Homo sapiens: one gene and its partners. The protein of the gene in region 1 purifies or fractionates together with the protein of each later gene. This does not show direct contact. Each region holds a gene or a part of one and is shown on either strand. Other genes may lie near its edges.

Evidence for each region.
Region 2: the proteins of KLK13 (region 1) and SERPINE2 purify together in Homo sapiens (affinity purification with mass spectrometry; 3 studies listed by BioGRID and IntAct, with this or other methods). This does not show direct contact.
Region 3: the proteins of KLK13 (region 1) and SERPINB6 purify together in Homo sapiens (affinity purification with mass spectrometry; 2 studies listed by BioGRID and IntAct, with this or other methods). This does not show direct contact.

Annotation. Positions count from the first base shown.
Region 1 is NC_000019.10:51,062,088-51,069,767, reverse strand, and holds the start of KLK13 (kallikrein-13 isoform 1 precursor), read left to right. Parts: upstream 1-4,675; 5' UTR 4,676-4,700; coding exon 4,701-4,752; intron 4,753-4,848; exon of another isoform or gene 4,849-5,170; intron 5,171-5,906; exon of another isoform or gene 5,907-6,182; intron 6,183-7,680.
Region 2 is NC_000002.12:224,029,285-224,036,306, reverse strand, and holds part of SERPINE2 (glia-derived nexin isoform b precursor), read left to right. Parts: intron 1-4,828; exon of another isoform or gene 4,829-5,331; intron 5,332-6,099; exon of another isoform or gene 6,100-6,235; intron 6,236-7,022. UniProt on the Homo sapiens protein: Serine protease inhibitor with activity toward thrombin, trypsin, and urokinase. Promotes neurite extension by inhibiting thrombin. Binds heparin.
Region 3 is NC_000006.12:2,968,566-2,976,088, reverse strand, and holds the start of SERPINB6 (serpin B6), read left to right. Parts: upstream 1-4,521; 5' UTR 4,522-4,556; exon of another isoform or gene 4,557-4,940; coding exon of another isoform or gene 4,941-4,972; exon of another isoform or gene 4,973-5,284; coding exon of another isoform or gene 5,285-5,331; intron 5,332-5,365; exon of another isoform or gene 5,366-7,277; coding exon of another isoform or gene 7,278-7,310; intron 7,311-7,523.

The sequences.
Region 1 (7,680 bases):
TGAAAAGGATGGTGTGAACATCCGCTGAGAAGCCCAAGACCCACAAGAGAAGTATGTTTGGAACATGGGAAGGGCAGAGAACAGAAGTTGGTTTTGAACATGGAGATGTTGAGTAGGCAGCTGGATGTTAAGTGGAGAGTTTGAGAGTCAGACCTGGCTGGAGACATAAATTTGGGAGTCGTCAACATGTAGATGGTATTTAAAGCCACGAGACCAGATGAGATCACCGAGGGAGTGAATATAGACAGAGGAGAGAAGAAGGCCAAGGACCGAAGCCTGAGGTGCTCCACCATGTAGAGACTGGGGAGACAGGAAGAAACCACCTCCAGACACGGATGAGAATCAACCAGTGAGTGATGAGGAAAACCAGGAGAGCATAGTGTCCCAGAAGCCAAGGAAAGAAACAGGGAGTAGTCCACTTGTTAAATGCTGCTGATAACTCCAGTAAGATGAACCTGAAGAGACGGCCCTTGGATTCAGTACCGTGGAGGTCACTGTTGCCCTAAACAGGGGCATGGTTGGTACAGCAATGGGAGAGAAAGCCTTCATAGTGTGGGCTCCAGGGAGGACGGGAGGACAGGAATTGCAGGCAGTGAGCTTAGCCAACTTTTTAGGGAAGGATTGCAGTTGTACAGAGCAGAAAATGGGCCAGGAGCTGAAGGAGAACATGAGAGTGGGGAGAAATTTTTGTTGGTTGGTTTTCAAATTTTAACGAGAGATGGGAGAAACTGTAGTATATTTGCATGCTAATGGGGCTGCTCCTTGGAGAAGAAGGAAAACATGTTGCAGGAAAGAGAACAGAGAACTGCTGGCTGGAGCAATGCCCTCCAGAAGGCAAGAGAGGACAGGATACCAGCACCAGTGGAGGCATCTATCTTAGCTGCAGGTGCAGACTGTTCATCTAGAGAAATGGGAGAGGAGACAGAGGATGTGGGCACGCAGGTAGGTGGCAAGACCGACCTTTCTAATTTTTGCTATTCTGATGGATGAAAGCGATGTGTTATTGCTGCCTGGGATGCATGATGACTGGAGCCACATCCTGAATAACACGGATCCAGCTCTAAAGAAGAATCCATGTTTCTCAACTCTCTGTGCCTCTTTCTCACCAAGAGTCTGCTTCTCACTGGGCATCTCTCTCTTTCTATCTCTGTGCCTCTGTCCTCTGAATTTTCTTTCTGTCCTCTCCCACCTGCCCCATCTTTCTGTCTCTGTGTATTTAGCCCTTTGTATCTCTCAGTCTTCCCCTCCCTTCATGTTTGCGTTGGGGCCCCTCCTCTGGGCCTGGGTGTGGGGCCTACTTTCTCATCCCAGCTAGCACTTCCAACCAGAAGTTCCAGTTCCTGCTTGACAAAGAATCCCATTTTGAAGCCAAGATAGGGAGGGGCCTCCTGGAACCGTCAGATGCCTCCATCTTAAGCTTTACTTATTTAACAGGAGCATTGTGGCCCTTGGTCCATGCCACACTCTCTTCGAAGCATTTTTGGGTATTAATCCAGTTAACCCTTCTCCATAAGGCAAGTGCTATTGATTGTGCCATTTTACAAATGGGGATGCTGAGGCACAGAGCAGTCACATCATCTGAACTCAGGCAGTCTAGCTCCAGAGTCTGAGGTCAGAACCACTAGGAACACCATCTCTTTTTCGGGTCCTTTCTTCTTCTTTCTCCAGCCCGGTTCTCTGTGGTGGAGGAAAGACCTGCACCTGTGACAGAAGCGCACTTGGATTTGGTCCAGTTTGTGTGTGACTTTCAGCCGTGGGCTTGTTCATCAAGTGAGGGGGTGGAAGGTGCCCAGCCCTCAGTGGGTCCATGACCTCACTTCAACCAGAGCTACCCAACCCGCGTTCGGCCAATCATAACCCCTAACATCAATTTGACCTGGCACTCACCCCTCAGCAAATAACAAGGCCAACCACCCTCACTCCAGGCTCCAGCTTTTCCCAAGTGAGAAAGGCTTCTCTGGAAGCATGGACCCAGGTCACAGGAGGGTACAAGTACCCCGATTTCCCACATAAGCTGGTTGCCGCACTTAACCTGGCATCCTACCTCCAGCCACACCACCTGAACACAATTCCACTCAAAAAGTGAACTCAGACCCCGCCCTGTGAGGTGGGAGAAGTCCAGGGTGGAGAAAGACAGTGACCTTTCTTTCACCTTGAGAGGTGGGGTATGACCCAGCTCACCCCCACCAAAACCTACTGCATCATAGACACTCAACCTCATGGCCAGTCCTCATCACCCATGTCAACCCACTACCCCAGCTCAACCACATCTTAACATTTCCCCATCCAAAACCTCAATCTTGGTTCCATCTTCAGCCCCAACCCAACAGTACCCCAACACCAACTTATCCCTAGATACCTCCCATCTTACAATCTAATCCTATCCCAAAACCAGCTCAACTACCACCTCCAACTCTATACCCATCCTCATCCAATTTTCATTCACCTCCCCAAACTCATTGCATTCCTAATGTTGTCATCAGGCCCATCCTTAACCATAGACTCTACTGATTTCCTATATTAAGCCATATTTTTCTTCTTAGCAAAATACTTTGAAATGGACCCAACATTGGACACTGAGGTGTCGCCAATGCAAAGTTAGATGGGTTATCTGATTTTATGAGGTCTCTGTACCCTTTCCTGTCTTTGAGCCACTTTATGACTCTAAATTGTAGGTATCTGAGAGCAATGCAAATAATTCTTGTCCATAAATGTTTACATGAATTTTGCCAGGTGGAAGTACAATGGATTTCCCTCCTCCTCCCAGTGTGGAATAGCCAGTTTTGCATCTATTTGTAAATTCATTTCAGCATTCCTCGTTGTCTCTGTGCATATGGCTCTTTGTAACATCTTACTGGCTCTGCCATTTATTAATGAGTCAAGATACAATCTTTGACACATGTTCATTTCATATATGTCAGAGAGTCATGGTAAGACCATGTTTTAAAAGTTACCCTTTGACACTAGATTTGATCTCCACATCCAAATCTGAACTCCATCAATAAGGACTGTACAAGTTTCCATGTGAGCCCTCGCCCCATCCATCTCTATTCTTTATCCTCATTGTGACACCTCCACTCTCTCACTCTTTCCAAACTTCATCTGGTCCACGTCCCTGGCTTTCTTCCAAATTCTGACCCCACCTCAGTCCTTAATCCCTAATCCTGTCCCCTCCACCCCCTAGGATTAACTCAGGGCTCCACCCAGTCATAGTTCCTGGAGACACCTACTCATTCTCAAAACACCACCCCTTCCTCCTTCCTCTCCCCCACCCCCAATCCACGTCTTCAAAGCTTTCCGGCTCCTGCTTTTTCCTCTCCACCTAGGTCCCCGTGGACTCCCTCACCCCCTCTGGCCCTGCTCCTAAAAGGCCATTTCTGGAAAATGTTGCTTTCTCAGGTCGCATCTCTGCCCCCATCCAAGTCCGAGGGAGCTGATTTTCTATCCACCCAGCTGATGATTTCCTTCTTGTGTCCGGTGGTTGGCGGGAGCAGGGAGGCAGGATGATGGGATAATTGTGGGTGTCCTTGTGTCTTTCAAAAGAAAAAGGGTTGAGATGAGACTGGGAATTGGAACCTGGATGTGTTGAGAGCTAAACCTGAGATGAGGTTGGAGATGGGACTGGGGTTGAGGAACAGGCTGGAGTACTTGGTATGGTTAGGGATGGATAGGGAGGTGGGAATCTGATAGAACACGGCCATCTGGGGGCTGACTGCCTATTAAGAATTATGCATGGGGTTGGAGAAGAGGTTAGAAAACTGGGTGCAGAATGGGTTGAAGTTAGGGATGGGCATGGAACTCAGCGGGGTAGGGGGAAGGAAATGGGCTTTCCCCTTACCCTTTTTTGGGTCCTGAGGCCTGAAAGTTCACAGTGGGTTCAACTCTGCCTTGGGCGGGGTCAGACCTAGGTCCCAGCACGTCCTGGAAGCTCCGCCCCAAGCAGAGGGCCAAGCCCAGGTCGGGGGTGCCTGGAGACATCCCGCTGAGCCACTGGGGGTGGAGAGGGGGAGGCCAGGGACCAGGAAATGCTGAGTGAGCTGGGGGAGGGAGTTCAGGGGTTAAAAGCCATGGTTCGGGGCTGAAGTTCTAGACAGCTGGCGGCTGACGCTCCTCGTGGGCCCCTCACTCAGGTAGGGTCTGCCTGGGGCGGGGGCGGGGAGCGGAGGAGGGCAGGGAGGGGAGAGAAGAGGGGATAGGAAGGATGGGGAAAGCAGAAGGGCAGCTGAGTCAGGGAGAGGGAGAGTGAAGCTAGAGTCTCAGATCTAGAGAGAAACCTGCAGAGACGGAGAGAGGCGAAGGGCGCGGACAGATAAGAACTTGGGCTAATACCAAGCGTGTGGACAGACCCAGAGGGGTAGAATGGAAGGCAGACTCTGGAGGAAAAGGGCGAGAGTGCACCGACCACCCAGCTCGCCAGAGGGCAGGGGAGGAGGGACGGCTTCCTGGGGTGAGGGGCTGCACGCCGGAGCCCCAGGAGGTTGCACACTGTTCCTCCCACCTCGCCACTGCACCCCCACCAAGGATGGAATTGGAGGCGGGGGGCAGATTCCAGGGTCAGGGCTGTCAAGAGTGAATGAGGCGAGGAGACATTCAGGAGCAGAGAGGTTTCAGACGCGGAGGTTCCGGGCACGCCCTCAACACCCCCTTCACCTTCTCCTCAGGCCCCGCCCGCCCTGCCCTCCCCTCCCGATCCCGGAGCCATGTGGCCCCTGGCCCTAGTGATCGCCTCCCTGACCTTGGCCTTGTCAGGAGGTAAGAATGCGCGGGGGTGGAGGCGCGGCGGCCATTCGGGACAATGGTAGGAGGGGTCAGGCCGGAGGGGGAGGGGGCGTGGGAGCCGCGAGCTCCGCCCCCCGCCCACTCGGGGCCGGGTCCAGTGGGGACAGCTCAGAGCTCTTCCTGCTTGTCCCTGGGTGACCTGGTTTCCCGGCTGAGGTTGGCCCTCCGACCCCAGACCCTTCACCTCCCAAAATACCCTCGCAGCAGCCCCTCCCGCGTTCAAGGCTTCCTGTCCTCTCTGGAAAGCTGAAAGACATGGGTTCGCGTCCTGACGCTGCCGCTTTGAGCCAGTAGCCTAGCAGCTGCTTTGTGCCTAAATTGTTTTCATCTGGAAAATGGGCTTAATCTATAAGTGCTTACCAGAGAAGGTCACTGTGAATATTGAAACGAGGTAATGCGTCGAGCCTTCAGTATGTCGCAGGTAGAAGGGACTTGAAAGTTAGCCACTTAGCCGTTATTACTTTATTAGTAGTATTCCTTTTTTTTTTTTTTTTTTTTTTTGAGATGGAACCTTGCTCTGTCTCCCAGGCTGGAAGGCAGTGGCACGATCTTGGCTTACTGAAACCTCCGCCTCCCGGGTTGAAGCGATTCTCCTGCCTCAGCCTCCCGAGTAGCTGGGATTACAGGCGCCCGCCACCACGCCCAACTAATTTTTGTATTTTCAGCAGAGACGGGGTTTCGCCATGTTGGTTAGGCTGGTCTCGAACTTCTAACTTCAAGTAGCCCGCGTCAGCCTCCCAAAGTGCCAGGATTACAGGCATGAGCCACCGAGCCCGGCCTCTAGTATTCTGTCTTCATACTCAGCCCCTTCCAGAACCTTCTAGATTGTTATTTTAATCCTTGGGTTGACCCCAAACCTATGTGACCTCACCCCAAATTGGTAGTCCTTAAGATCCTTATGGATCTTTCCCATCTTTCCCTGCCGTTGTAGGCAGGTTCTCTGGAAACCCCGTTCATGAATCATTTATTCATTCAACAAACAGCTATTAAACACCGGCCACTGTGCTGGGTGCTGTACAAGCAGAGACACAGTCCCTGCTCTCAGCACCTGGAGTCTAGCGGGGACAGACGCAGATGTTATTCAAACAATTATCCAAATAATTAGTTAATAATTATCTTGACATGAGGTGAAGACTTCAAGGAGCCAAGCCAGGGGCCTAGAGATGTAATGGCGGCTTCCCGACCAGAGGCCTTCCCAAAGGGCTTGACCCTTGAGCCAAGACCTGAAAAAGGAGGGATCTGTGGGTGCCTGGCACCTGGCACCATCCTTGGCCTGAAGGTGGGGTGGCTTTTCTCCTCTGGCGACACTCCCTGGATTCATGCCCGTGCCACTCCTGAGTGCCACACCCTAGGCTAGGAGACCCACACGCTACGCCTTGTGGAGTCCTCAACAACCTGGCGAGGTAGGTGCATTGTAATTACTCCAATTTCATGGCAGAGAAACCTAGGACTCAAAGACAGAAGGCTCCTGCTCCAATGACACCGGCGATGCCTGAGTCAGAATCCTAATCAAGGTTGTTTTCCCTGTCCATATCCTGGACTTGAGGCTCTGAAAACCATTTTTATAACTTTTGACCTAATCATTTGCTTAAAGTTAGCTTTTTTTCTTCTTTTTTCACTCAAACAAAAGCATGTTCAACTTTATATTACTGTCCTGAATAGAGAATAGAATTCTTTGTCATAAATAGAAGGTAAGGAAGGAAATAAATCCTGCACAATGAAAAGAAAATAATATGTTTATTGGGTTGGACCACCTGAAATTGCTGATACTTGACCCTTTTTGACCTTCCTAAAACAACTTTTGCAGATGGTTCAGTGTAATAAATGTTAGGTGGCCTGATGAGGCTTCTGTGTCCTCCTGGCTTTGAAAAGTGAGCTCAGTGAGGATTAGGGAGGTGTTAAAACCATATTAGCACCATCCTGAGACTTTATCCTTGACAAAATCAGGTTTAAAAGAGAACTGGATGCTGGTTCAGCGTCTGAGTGTGCGATTTAACGTTACTTAAATCTCATCTCTCTACCATCTAAAATGATCCTGTGCTCACCGACAACTTCTGTCCCTAACTGCAAACCACTGAGCTAATCCAACTGCTTGCCCTGTAGTTGGGGAAACTAGCTAGGGAGGCAGAGGGACCTCCTGTTGTAGCTAATAATTAATAATAACATTTCCCACTGACTGAGTGCTCTCCATGCCACCTGCTGTGCTGCACGGTTTGAAATGCAGGATCATCTTGAATTCTTCAACTGCGCAATGAGAGATGAACTATTACTTTTTCTACTTGACAGCTGGGGAAACTGAGGCTGGTGATTTGCATAAGGTCACACAGTCACAAAATGGCATGCATGTTCAGGATTGGATTCTCCCTGTCCCACGGACCCCTGCTGTGCTTTCAATGCCAGACACAGTGCCTGGCACACACAGCATTTATTTATTGAGCCCCCATTGTGTGCCAGGCGCTGTGTTAGGTCCTGGGAATATGGTACTGAATAAAGCAGTTAAGGTGCCTGTTGTCAATGGAGCTTACAGTCAAAGTGGAGAGATTTTTAAAAACGAATACATACAAATGTGAAGAGAAATGAATAGCAATCATTGTTCTGATGAAGACCAACTGGAAGAATGTAATGGGGGAGGAGTCGGGACCAGGAGAGTCAACATTAGACCAGGTGGTCAGGGAAGGCCTTTCTGAAGAGGAGACATTTGAGCTGACCTCTCAGAATTAAGAAGGACCCAGACATACAACCTCTAAATTCTGAGGGTCATCCAGTAGAATATTCCATATATGTATATATGAAATATCCTATATCTGTGCTGTCCAATTATCCACTAGCCCCTTCAGGCTATTGAACATTTGAAATATGGCTGGTGTGACTTAAGAACTGAATTTTTAATTTAGTTTTACT
Region 2 (7,022 bases), on another chromosome or scaffold:
TATTCCTCCCTGGCATCTCTGCTACCTCTTGGGGTTACCCAGGGTTCGCTGTCATCCCTTTTGTGCTCTGTGTATTTGGGTGAACCATGTTCCCACAGCTTCGACTCTCACCAATATGAAGCGAGTCCCAGATTGGCATGTTAAGCTAGCTTGAGCATGCTCCTGTGTTCCAATCAGTTACCTGCAGTCTGGTGCGCTTACCCGTGCCCTTTAGGCCAAAAAAACACCCCAAAATAAATCCAAAATTGATTTTAGTTTTCACCACCCACCCCATATCCGCTTCATTGTTAGCGAAGATTTGTCCGTTTTTTTTTGGCAGTGGTTCCACCGTTCATGGAGATGTTGGAGCAGGGGTCTCACGGTGATGCCAGGCTCCCGCACTGCCCACATGCAGGCTGTCACCAGATCCTGTTGCTTCTTCATGCTGTGAAATTCCACAAAGGTCCGCTCTAGTCACGCTGGCCTTGCCTTGCTTTAGAGCCCAAAAGTGGCAAAATGGTGGCCGGTGTGCCACTTCTAGCAGTAGGCAGCAGTGTTGTTGGCCTGAACAAAGTATATACAACTTGAGTTAATATTTAGAAATCTGGAGATGCCACTTGGATGTATAGCTTCTCCTAAAAGCCAGAAGACCTGGATGAGGCAGTGCGTGGTGGCTCATACCTGTAATCCCAGCACTGTGGGAGGCTGAACCAGGCGGATCACTTGAGGTCAGGAGTTCAAGACCAGCCTGATCAACATGGTAAAACCGCGTCTCTACTAAAAATACAAAAATTAGCTGCGCCTATAATCCCAGCTACTCGGGAGGCTGAGGCAGGAGAATCGCTTGAACCCGGGAGGCAGAGGTTGCAGTGAGCTGAGATGGCGCCACTGTTCTCGAGCCTGGGTGAAAGAGTGAGACTCTGTCTCAAAACAAAAACAAAAACAAAACAAAAAAAACCTGGAATAGGAAGCTTACATTCCCATGTGGCAAACCTCAGCTGCTGCTGGGTTTCCAGTGCCTGAATACACTGGAGGTAGGTTGCTTTCTGGTTCCCCCAGACCTGTGACCCTTGCTTATAGTGGCGTTCTGGCTCCCATGGGCTTCAGAGCTAGAGACCCTAGGCTGAGACGATCATCGACAGCCTGGGAATGCCTAGTGCTTACTGCACAGTGTCGTGCACCTCATGTTGCATCCCTTCTAACTCTCTTCCATGTTATTGCTGGTGTGACTTTCCTCCTGCTGCCCCAAATCCAAGTCTTCTTGGGTCCCTCCTAATAAAATTCAATGGCTCCCTCTTGATCTGGGCTTAAATCCCTGACTCTAAAGGAGTGGCCATGTCATATCACAAGTTTGGTATCTCAAGATTGAAAGATGAGCTCTCCGCTATCTTTATACAGTGTTGTACCCGAGTTTCTGAAGATGCTTTTGAGCTTCTGTAGGGTAGTTAATACAGAGTTCTAGTGTTGATGACAGTCCTGCTGTTTACAAAGCATTTCTACAAGCCTGACTACTGCCCCACTTCCTCGCAGCCCCCCTGGGTGGAGATAGGGCAGGGTCGATTCTATATCCCAAACAGCAGTGGGGAGTCTGTAAATATGGAGGCATAGGCCATCCCAGGGAGTCCCCCACCCTTGGAACATGGGGAACCTTGTTTTACATGTGGTATCCAGAGTCATACAGTGTGTTCCTGAGGTCATTTAGACACCTTAGGGCAGAGTCTTGACCCAGAACTCAGTTCCTGTCAGCATGCAGCCAGGGAACTTTCCACAGTGCTCCATGGGCTCACCAGGCTGCTGGCCATTTGTAATGACCCAACAGAGTCAAAGCTTTCTTCACTCCCTTCCCATCTCCTTGCCTTGTCCCCTGCCTGAAACATTCTTTTCTTGCAAAACTGAACCTCCCGTAAACTGCACTGGTACCGCCCAGTGCTTTTCTGCCTTTGCTCCTTCTGTACCTCTGCCTGGAATTCCCTTTCTCCTCCTGTGTTCATTGTCTGGCTGATTTCTCCTTTTTCAAGACTCAGGCTCAAAAAGGCCTTGCTGGCAGTCACCACCCCAGCCCTCTGTGGCACATGTGCAGTGTACACACACGTCACCCCTCCCCGTGCCTACCTCAATGATGGCAGTTTTTTGTGTTGTAGCAACATGCCCTATCCAGTAGACTCTAAGCTCCAGAAAGACGTGCCTGTGTTTTAGTTTTATTTGCACCAGCGGTGGTGTGTGGCCCAAAGGCAATTAACAGATGTCTGAACTAAACCATATTCATATTTTTTGTAAGTTTACTGCATGCTTTATGGAAGAGTGTTTGTATTCCAGACTCAAAGGGGAGCTCTCTCTGCCAGACCTCCAGCCCTCATTTTGGTACTAGCAAATTTAATATATATCCTCAGACATTTTAAATTTTTGATTAACCTTGTCTTTTGAGATAAAACATTACTTAGAGAAAAGCGGAAGTCTAATACAGAAGCACTTGTGTGCCTGTGTTCACTTCAGTTATCCTCATCTGAACCTCCCTTTGGCATGGTTCTGCCCTCCTTGAGGTCTGTTGGCTGGGCTGCACTCTGCATTTCGTGGTTTTACAGGGTAGGAGAATGCATTTTGGTTTATTTCTATTAACTTTGGTGATGGTGATATATGACCTCTTGGTGACTTTTTTTTTTTTTTTGCCATGGAACTTTTTTGGCTGGTATCGTCAGTCACATTTGGTGGAAAGAGCAGGCTGGGAGAGGGTATGGGCTGCACCACCAATAGAGCGTGTAGGTTACCATCTAGAACTCAGTTTCCTTGTCTGTATAATGGGTATATTGAAATAAATGATCTAAAAGGTGTCTTATTTTTAAAACCTATAAATTCTTGGCTCAGTTTCCTTTTGATGTGGCTTTCTCATAAGTGTTAAGTCTAGATAAAATTTTTTCGTAAATGCATTATCCTGTGCTCATACACCTTAAAGTTCTTGTCTCTCACTTTTTTAAGCCTATAAAATCATTCAGCATTATATTCAGAAACAGCATCATGGGCCAACATGAAGATTTAGTTTGTATTCCCACTTAGAGCATTTATAAAAATTTTAAATAAATTAGGTCCCATATACTTGAATCTTGTCAACCTGTTCTCCACACATAAATGTGCCCATCTTCTCTTTGCAAACCATCTTTCCTCATGAGTAGATTGCACGCCTAATCTGAAAACCAATGTTGGGTTTTTAAAAAATACCCTTAGATACAGAATGGAGTCAAATGCAATAAACTACATCTTTAGGTTATCTCTTGTCTGCAAGTTCCCAATTTAAGAATACTGAGAGATTAGTATGATTTTATTTCTCTTTTGAGAAATACCACCTCCCATCCAACAGGCCAAGTCTATTTCTACAGTCAGTGAGTCTTGCCTTTATTCTGCTGTTAGATTTCTAGGTCTGGATGTAAGCCCAGTCCAGGGAAGTCGGCATCCCTTCTGGGATTCTTTCTGTGCATGAGGATGGCCACTGAGCCCAAGCAATCCTCTATTTGTAATTCCACTCGTATGTTTTGGCAAACATGTCCTAGGATTCCTCCAAAGGTTGGGGTGGACACCCTAGTTCAAGATTAGATCAGGAACACCCAGGCTTTTGCCACAGTTTGACGTAAGACATTATCCTTTGCTTCAGAAGATCATTTGAGAATTGGAATTTACATCCATTGTGCCTTTCCATTTTTCTTATTTAATTCTTTGAAGAATAATATGAGGAGACTTTAATATAAAAGAAAAAATCCCATCAAGAGTCAGAAAGGATTTCCTGTTACGGCTGCAAATCTTGGTAAATGCACTTTGTTTTTGTAAACCGTGCCCCACCCCCAACCCCTAGTGTGAACTCGTAACCTGGGGAATTTCTCTTGAGAGCATACCAAAAATAGCATCAGTGCCTTCTCTTACCCCTACCCCAACTTTCGCCCTCCATGTAGTTCCAGCAAATATAGCTATAGAAAAAATAACCACTTGTTTTTATCCTAAGTTTTTATGGGCCAAATCTTGAAGGTGGATGTGGGTATGTGAAAGAGTTTAATGCCAAATACAAAGCCCACTCGGAAATGAATAAGGTGACTACAAATGAAAATGGATGTTTCTTTCTTCCTTTGGGGAAAGTGCTATGTAAATAAAGGCAATGTTTGCTTCCTCTACTAAAATTTATTTCTGCAGTTTTTAAATAAGAAATCCACTCAAGAAGTTATTCTTACTGAGGATTTGGTCACTGTTAAGATTATAGGAACTATTAACTACTGCATTATCTTTTGCTTACAAGAGAACAAACCCAAATCAAAATAACTCGGAAACAAGGCGGAGAGCTGTTGGCTGACACTGCCCACTCAAGCATGGGAGAGGTGACTCTGGCCCTGAAGATGACTGGAACCAAAGACTGAGGACTTGGAGGCTTTCTTCTCTTTCTCCTTGCCTCTCATCTCTGCTTCTGTCTGCTGATTGTGGTTGTCCTCTCCGGGACCATGACTGTAGGTAGCTCCAGGCTTACCTCCCTACAGCCTCCTCAGTGAGGAGGAAAGAGGGGCTTTTCAGCCAGTTCCAGCCGGCGGGGGGGGTGGGGGGTGGAAATCCTAGGGAGGAATTCTGATTGGCTTAGTTTCAGTCACATGCTGTTCGCTGTACCAATGGCTGTGGGCAGAGGAGTGAGGTCCTATGATTGGCTGATGCTAAGTCACATGGTCACATGCTCGTCCCGATACCAATGGCTGTGGGCAGAGGAGTGAGGTCCTGTGATTGGCTGATGCTAGGTCACGTGGTCACATGCCCTTCCGTGTACCAATGGCTGTGGGCGGAGGAGGGAGGTTCTATGATTGGCTGAATCCCAAATCACATGGTCAATCCTTGGTTAGGAGGAAAGGGAGTGGAGAGGACCGTGCTGCCTGGCGTTCCCCAGCTGCCTTTCTTTCTGTTTTCCCCCCAACGGAATCTCTATGTGGTCTCCTAGAGCCTCGTGCCTGCCTCTCAGCTAGATGCTGATATCATTCCCACTCATGTAGTTGGGAAGGAAGGGTGTGGCAGAGATAAAGGGTCCACGGTCACGCAGTATGTGGGGGGTCACACAGCCTGTATGCCAAAGTGGCACACCCTGTGAATATGTAGGGTCGCACAGCCTTTATGTGTCAGTGCCAGAGCCTGGACCCGGGTCTGTAGATGTGTGAACCGTGAGCTGATACCATGGATATTCAAAGATTTACATCCCATCAATGTTTATACCTTCTTGAGAAGAAATTTGTGTCAAAGCACACTCCTCCTTTCAAGACTACCTCCTCGCCGTGCTGCGTGATAGCCCTAGTATCACAACCAAAACACATGATACAGAAAGAGGCCAGTATCTGTGTGGTACGTTTGAATCATGGTTTTATGCCTTTGGCCCCCTAGTTCCTTCCTCAGACACTTGTTTTTTTCTGGGACTGAAATCTAAAATTAGTACTGACCTTTGGATTGAGAAGGTAGAGAGATTTACACAAGAGTCCAAGCGAATAACTTAAGCTGAGCTGGATAAAACTCAGCAGAATCACAGAACAAGTGTGCCATGACTTTTCAAACATGCCTAATTGAACTCTGTTTGCGATTTAACTTCTTTTTCAAAGGTTTATAGTTACCTTTATTTCAAAATTTGTCATTTTAAAATATGTGTTTCCTCCTTTTCCTCCACTGTATAGTAATTAAGAGTGTGGAGGATTTGGAGGCCAGCGGGCTTTGGTTTGAATCTAGAGGCTACATATTGGAGGGTATGAGCCAAAGCCAAATTTCTAAACATCTCCAAGCCCATCCGTGAGTTGGGCCTAAAGGTGTTTAGGCTTAAGGGCCACCCCTGAAGTGTTGTGAGGATGAAGCGAAGAGTATATCTTAGGCGCTAAGCACAGTGGCAGGAATGGAGCTGACTTTCGGGACACGAGGTGGCTGTGGTTGTGGCATTGGGTAATATTTGTCACAGAAGTACAGGTGAGCACTTCTCTGAGACTCATGTCTTCCTCGTGTCTTTGGCCTGATGAATGAGTGACTTGCTCTGTGTCTTTGCATGCTTTGTTTCCAGACACCTTTCCTGCTGCACTCTCAGTGGGCAGTACTCCCCAATGATCACCTGGTCATCTGTCCTGCCCGCAGGCTTCAGGCTCTTGTGCGTTGGCCATGAAGCAAAGGAAGGCTGTTGCATGAAATAACCTCCTTCTGACTCCACCCTTGCATTTGTGAGATGTAAACAGCAGTGTTACCAAGAGGTCTTCCAGGGAACACGTTGCAGGTAGCCCTGTCATGCTGGCTGCTTTTTTCCATTAGGTTAGTTGTGAATAACGAATAAATGTCTATGCAGGGCCAGACATGTCTATGCTGGCTCACGCCTGTAATCCCAGCAGTTTGGGAGGCTGAGGTGGGCAGATCACTTGAGGCTCGGAATTCAAAAACAGCCTGAACATAGTGAAACCCTGTCTCTACTAAAAATGCAAAAAATTAGCTGGGCATGGTGACGCACGCCCGTAATCCCAGCTACTTGGGAGGCTGAGGCATGAGAATCACTTGAACCCCGGAGGCGGAAGTTGCAGTAAGCAGAATTGTGCCACTGCACTCCAGCCTGGGTAACAGAGGGAGGCTCTGTCTCAAAATAAAACAAAACAAAAAATGTCTATACAGTAGGAAAAATAATCTATTTGGTTTAATATTTAGGTCTCTGCAAGGGTAGCATCCAGAGGCTTCTCTTTTCATTCTTGTTTTTCTGACTGTGAAAAAATCATTCTACTGTGTCCAGTGATGTCCAGATACCAAGAAATAACTATTTTAAACATATGGTGAATATTGTTAAAGCACATGGTGATGGTCATTTAATTATGATTTGATTCCGTCAATATGCAAAAGAGTTCTAAGAATGTTGGGTTAACCTTAGCAAGCATTCCCAGATAGGAAATGTGTTTTCTGCTACCATTGATAGGATTTTTTTAAGGATTTTACTGGCAGTTATCCACTTTGGACTTCATACAGCAGTCTGAGTATATGCCCACACCTGAGTTGTTGCTCTAACAGTGAGATTAGGGGAT
Region 3 (7,523 bases), on another chromosome or scaffold:
TTGGAAATAGTTCTTCAATCTTATTTAAATCCAGGTGGGATGGCAGAGAATGCCAGACTACAGAACCCCTTCCTAGGTCTCCCTGCCCAGTAAACCTATTTTGAGAAGAAGCCATTGAGGTTAGGAATGACTTGCCCTTTGGTGAAGCTATATGGGCTCACACTTTCATTTTGTAGATACTAACACCACAAGTGGTCAGGCAATTTGCTCCACTGAAGGTATCAGCCAATGCAATCAAACAAGAGAAAACGATTAGAGAGATGAACATTGGAGAAAGAAGTACAACTATTTCTATTTATAGGTGATGTAGTATAGCTATAGATGACTTAAAAGAATCAATAAAAAATACAAATAGTAAAAAATTTCAGTAAGGCAGCAGGTTATAAAGTTAATACATAAAAACAATTTTCTCATCCACAAACAAAAGCTAGTTGGAAAATATAATGGAAAAAACTTGCTTACATACAATATCAACAAAGAGATAAAATAACTAGAAATAAACTAAACAAGAAATGTGCAAATCTTACATGAACAAAACTTTAAAGGAAAAAGGAAAAAAATTATTTGAAGGAACAGAAAGACCCAGCATGTTCTTGGCTAGAACAACTAAATCAAAGTACAAATGTTGGTTTATAACAGGGTAATATGTAAATTCAATATGTTTCTAATAGATTACCAACAAGATTTATTTTTATTTTCATTTATTTTATTTTTATTTTATTTTATGTTTTTGAGACAGAGTCTCGCTCTGGTGATCCACTCACCTCTGCCTCCCAAAGTCCTGGGATTATAGGCGTGAGCCACTGCATCTGGCCTGTTTGACTACAGTTTAATTTTATTTTTTTAATTATTATATATATATTTTTTTGAGACAGGGTCTCGCTCCATCATCCAGGCTGGAGTATAATGGCACCATCTCAGCTCACTGTAACCTCTGCCTCCCAGGTTCAAGCAATTCTCCTGCTTCAGCCTCCCAAGCAGCTGGGATTATAGGCACACGCCACCAGGTCCAGCTAATTTTTGTATTCTTAGTAGAGATGGGGTTTCACCATGTTGGCCAGGCTGGTCTTGAACTCCTGACCAAGTGATCTGCCTGCCTTGGCCTCTCAAAGTACTGAGACTACAGGTGTAAGCCACCATGCCCTGCCAACAAGATTTTTTTCTTTAGAGCTAGACAAGTTGACTCTTAAATTTGTATGGGTGAGGCCGGGTGCGGTGGCTGACACCTGTAATCCCAGCACTTTGGGAGGCTGAGGAGGGTGGATCATGAGTTCAGGAGTTTGAGACCAGCCTGGCCAACATGGTGAACCCTCATCTCTACTAAGAATACAAAAATTAGCTGGGTGTGGTGGCATGCGCCTGTAATACCAGCTACTTGGGAGGCTGAGGCATGAGAATCGCTTGAACTCAGGATATGGAGGTTTCAGTGAGCCAAGATCGCACCACTGCACTCCAGCCTGGGTGACAGAGAGGGACTCCAGCTCAAAAAAAAAAAAAAAAGTTTGTATGGGAGAAAAAGCAACAAGGAGAGCCAGGAAAATCTGAAGCAGAAGAGCAGTAAGGAGAATGCGCTGTACGAGATATTGAATCATAAGAGAAAACCTCTATAACTGAAAGAATCTGACCAACAGAACCAAATAGAAAGTTTAGAAAGTTCAGAATCAGACCCAAGTATATGCAGCTATTTGATATATAACATAGGTGGCATGTGAAGACATTAGTGAAAATGGTTTTTCAATAAACAGAGGTGGAAAAACTGAAAGTCACTTGAAAGCGAGTTAAAATTGGATCTATATTTCCCATACACCAGAATAAACTTTAAAGGGATCAGCAATCTAAATATAAAAAATAAAACTGTGCAAATACTAGAAGAAAACATTAGTGAACTCTATAATCTAGAGATTATTCTTTTTTTTAAAAAAAAAGAGATTGCTCCTTGTGAATAGAGAAAGTTTTTCTAACTACGACTCAGAAACAATAAAGGAAAAATCATTAAAGTTGACTACATTAAAAGAGTGTATGCCAAAATCACCAGAAGCAATGTCAGAAAACAGATGACAAGCTGGGGGAAATATTCGCAATTTATATCACTTAAGACTAATTAAGCCACAACTAGGGAGGGGCGTGTGGTTTGCTCCTGGCATCCACTTGGTGAATCTCCTCCAGAGATTCTGTGAAACATGTGTGATGGCAGGACAGCCCCCACAACCACAAGTTATCGGGTTCATGCGGTCAACAGTGTCGCAGTTGAGAAACTCTGCCTTAGGGTAAGCACAGAGGGAGTAAAACAGCTTGAGTTCTCAAAATTGAACTCATGTAAAACACCTGGCTAGTATCTTCCCTACTTCCATTTATGCTAGATGTTTCTGTTTTCCAAGACTGCTCTGTCTGAGATGGCAGATGGAGTTTTCATACTTACTTGGCTAACCTGTCAGTACCCTGGGGTCTAATTCCTATGCCTGGAGAGAACTGGAAGTCCTTGAACACACGGCTCAATGATGTGGGCTCTGCTCATTTATATACATTTATTTTTAAATTTAATATATATTTTAGTTTTTTTATTTCCATAGTTTTTTGGAGAACACGTGGTATTTGGTTACATGGCAAGCTTTTTTTTTTTTTTCCTGAGATGGGGTCTTGCTCTGTTGCCCAGGCTGGGGTGCAGTGGCATGATCTCAGCTCACTGCAACCAACCTCCGCCTGCTAGATTCAAGCAATTCTCCTGCCTCAGCCTCCTCAGTAGCTGGCACTACAGATGTGTGCCACCATGCCTAATTTTTTTATATTTTTAGTAGAGACGGGGGTTTCACCATGCTGGCCAGGCTGGTCTCGAACTCCTGACCTCATGATCTGCCTGCCTTGGCCTCCCAAAGTGCTGAGATTACGGGCATGAGCCACTGCGCCCTGCCAAGTAAGTTCTTTAGTGGTGATTTGTGAGATTCTGGTGCATCTATCACCTTAGCAGTATACACTGAACTCAAATTTGTAGCCTTTTATCCCTCACTCCCTTCCCACCCTTTTCCCCCAAGTCCCCAAAGTCCATTGTATCATTCTTATGCCTTTGTATCCTCATAGTTTAGGTCCTACTTATGAGTGAGAACATACAATGTTTGGTTTTCCATTCCTGAGTTACTTCACTTAGAACAACAGTCTCCAATCCCATCCAGGTTGCCAATGCCATTAATTCATTCCTTTTTATGGCTGAGTAGCATTCCACCGTATACGCATACCACAGTTTCTTTATCCACTCTTTGATTGATGGGCATTTGGGTTGGTTTCATGTTTTTGCAATTACGAATTGTGCTGCTATTAACATGCGTGTGCAAGTATCTTTTTTGTATAATGACTTATTTTCCTCTGCGTAGATACCCAGTAGTGGGATTGCTGGATCAAATGGTAGTTCTATTTTTAGTTATTTAAGGAATCGCCATACTATTTTCCACAGTGGTTGTACTATCCATCAGCAGTGTAGAGGTGTTCCCTCTTCACCAAATCCACGCCAACATCTATTATTTTTTGAGTTTTTGATTTTTTGATTAAGGCCACTCTTGCGGGAGTAAGGTGGTATCACATTGTGGTTTTGATTTGCATTTCCCTAATCATTAGTGATGTTGAGCATTTTTTCTTGTTTGTTGGCCATTTGCATATCCTCTTTTGAGAACTGTCTATTCATGCCAGCCCACTTTTTGATGGGATTTTTTTTTCTTGCTAATTTGTTTGAGTTTCTTGTAGATTCTGGATATTACTGCTTTGTCGGATGTATAGATTGTGAAGATTTTCTCCCACTCTGTAGGTTGTCTGTTTACTCTGCTTGACTATTCCTTTTGCTTTGCAAAAGCTATTTAGTCTACTTTTTTTTTTTTTTTTTTTTTTTTTTTTTTTGAGACGGACCAGACTGGAGTGCGGTGGCGCCATCTCGGCTCACTGCAGCCTCTGCCTCCCGGGTTCAAGTGATTCTCCTGCCTCAGCTTCCCCAGCAACTGAGATTACAGGCACGCGCCATTACACTCGGCTAATTTTTGTATTTTTAGTAGAGACGGGGTTTTGCCATGTTGGCCAGGCTGGTCTGGAACTCCTGACCTCCAGTGATCCGCCTGCCTCGGCCTCCCAGTGTTGGGATTACTGGCGTGAGCCCCGCGCCCGCCCCTGGCTGGCTTCTTTGCCGCAAGCTGTTTCATCAGCAAAGTCTTTGTGACCTGTATCTAGTCTGCTCATTTTTAAATGCGTGTTCTGCACTCCCCAGTGGATGGCCGTGTATCAGGAGCCGGCCCTTTTCTGGAAACAGGCCAGCATTCAGTCTCCACAGAGGCACCATAAACACGCTGGTGGGGCCCTGTACTGTGGTCAAAGTCAAGGCCTCCGGGCAGGACTCGCGGCCCCTCCGGCTGGCGGGTGGGGTTGACCCGCACGTCCCGCCCCGCCTCTCCCTTCGCGCTCCGGACGGGCGACGGTAGCTCGAGACCCGGGACTCCGCCCGCCTCCCCGCGAGTATTTGAGGTCCGGGGCGGCTCCGGCGCCTCTGCCCGCCGTTCTGCTCGCTCGCTCCCCGCTCTGGAGTACGTGTCTGGCTTGGGAGCCGCTCGGACACGCTGGCTTGGGTTTGTCGCTCCAAAGTCGGGAAAGCCGGGGGCGCGAGCGGGGAGGGGGGCAGGGTGGGGGTCGCGCGGGGCCGGGAACGCGCGTGGGTCGACGGCGCGCGGGGACGCTGGAGCCCCGAGAATGGGGCGTGGCCGCGCGGGGCTGTGACCCCAGCAGTCCCAGCGGGGCGGGGGCCCGGGCGAGCGTCCGGCTTGGGTTCCCTTCCGGAGCCTCGCAGCGGCAGAGAACGGCGACGCGGCCGGGTGAGTCGTGCGTGGCCGCGAGCCCGGCCGGTGACGCCGCGGACCCGAGGACCCCGGGCGCCCAGGCCCAGCGCCCACGGAAGAGGCGGCCGGCGCGGGATGGGGGCGGCGCAGAGCCTCCCGGGCCACAGGTGACCCCGGTCGGCCCCGCGGCCTCGGTGACCCCTCGCCCGCTCCGCGACCCGGAGGACGCGTGCTCAGTCTTGGGGCGCCGGGTGTTAGGAGCCGGGCGGGAGGCGGAGAGAGGCCGAGGGGTTCGGCGCCAAACGGTGCCATCCGGGCCCCCTGCGTGTGTTCACTGGACTGGCCGTGCTGGGCTTGGCCAATCCGCAGCACTTTCAGGTCGCCCAGACCTGTGGAGACGATCGTGTGGACCAGCCCGGATCTCCTTACCGCTCTGTGTTTGAATTAAACTCCCTACAGGCAAACTATTACAGGCTTTGATGTCTTCAAGGCAAAGAGGAAACTTTAACTACAAATTGGCATTTAAGTTATTTTCTTCCTTTTTTTTTTTTTTTTTTTTGTCCTAAAGATTGGCTTCGGAAAACTGAGGTACAGAAAATTAATAATTAATGTTCACATGCTGTCAGGAATACTCAGATGCGAGGGGGCATCTGAGTCCATTTTTTGGGCACTTTTGCTTTCTGGGATGCTCTCGTGCCTAATGACAGCCCTGCAGCTGCCTGCATCCTTTCTGGTGGGGGTCAGGCCTGATGCGATGAGATCTGATGTGTTCAGTGACCTTCTAGTTAAGGTCCTGGGCCGGCCTTGTATTGCTGGGGCTTTTATGTGTGCTGGGATTAACACCAGTGACTGCTGTTATCAGCATAGATGGCGTTTGTTCTCATTTCAGGACCGTATCTGAGTAATTGCATCCATTGTGATGTGCCACCAAAGAGAAAAGTACTTTGGTCATACTCGACTATGTAAACTAAGTATTTTAAGTTAAGGCCAATTCCAATGCATTTTATTACAATTCAGCATGAAACAGTTAACACGGACCAGTAACAGTAGAGTGAAATTAGCATGAATAGAACCAACATTCTTTTCCACATATGTAATAATAAGGGCACCCAAGCAGATGTTGTACGGTCCCAGGGAAGACCACACACCTTACATTTCCAGGCTTACTGCACTTGGGATTAAGCCAAGGCATCCAAAGAAAGAAAATTTTTTTTTTTTTTTTTTTTGCCAGGCTGGAGTGCAGTGGTGCGATTTCGGCTGACTGCAACCTCCACCTCCCGGGCTCCATACCTGGCTAATTTTTGTATTTTTAGTAGCAATGGGGTTTCACCATGCTGGCCAGGCTGGTCTCAAACTCCTGACCTCGTGATCTGCCCGCCTTGGCCTCCCAAAGTGCTGGGATTACAGATGTGAGCCACTGCGCCTAGCCTGAAAATAATGTTTAACTCCCATTTATATGTTAGGCTGCTCAGATATATTAAACACATACACACACAACACACACACACACACACATACACACTGCACAAGGAAACAGAGGGACAAAGCAGGAAGTCCAAGTTTCCATTAAACCAGTCTTTAAATGGTTAAATTTAGTAGGAAATAAAGGCATCCTTAATAGAAGTTGAGAAGCACAATTCAATAGTGACACCTAAAAAAAAATTAAGACTTGATTAGTTGAATAAAATCAATTGTGAACATTGCTCAGTTACTGGTGATGCTACAGGAAAAAAAAAGTGATGCCAGGATAGATTTGTTAGGCTTGTTTAAAAAATACATAAAATTGTTCATTAATAAGACTTTAATATCCAGTTTTTATGTCTGTGATTAAATATCATTTTTTATTTTTAAATGGTATAGTTTTTAAATTTTGAAACAATTAATTTTGCATAAATATTTGTCTATGTACATATATACATGTGTATTCACATATATATATGAAGGACACTTAGCTATCTTATTTACTGAAGCTAAAGAAGTAGGTCCTTAAAAAGCCATTGACAGGTCTTGAGTTTGCAACGTGACTGTGAAACAGGCATCCTTGTTACTCACACGTTTGCTGAAAGGATAACAGAAAGCCCTCGATAGAAAAATCTCACTAGATTGTTTATAATTTGTTGATATTTGGAGTATCTTGAGTGGTAAACTTTAAATGTGGATTTATTTTTTCTTTCCTTTTAGGATTTGGATCTCTCCAATCTTTTTTATGATTAATTGTTCAGTGTTTATGCATTATTGCGAAGTGATAATGAAAATGCTCAAACTCAGGGTCCTGCAGGCACTGTGGGGGAGGCAGTGGGGACGTGAGGGGATTACAGATCCAGTAGAAGCCCCCCGACCCCCATCTGCTTCCACCCCATCTCCTTCCAGAACACCACCGATAGCCACACCGAAGAGTTCTCCCATTTGCTGGTTCCCGGACAAAAAAGCTGCTGATCCCTTGAGCACACTGCAGTGAAGCTCCCAGCTGACATGTCCTGTCCATGTAAACAGAACTTCCTCCATGTAAACAGAACTTCCAGCATTGTTTGTGTTTTCCTCTTAACTATGTACTGACATCCAAGGGTTGTTAGGAATGTTTGGAAAGTCTAGGTACAAAAGAGAGACCTAAATAAAATAAAGCAAACACCAGCCACCATAACAAAAGGACCCCAGAGATAGGCAGCGCAGGGAACGGAAGACTCAATAAACTATAATTGTGGTATCCAAAGAATTAGT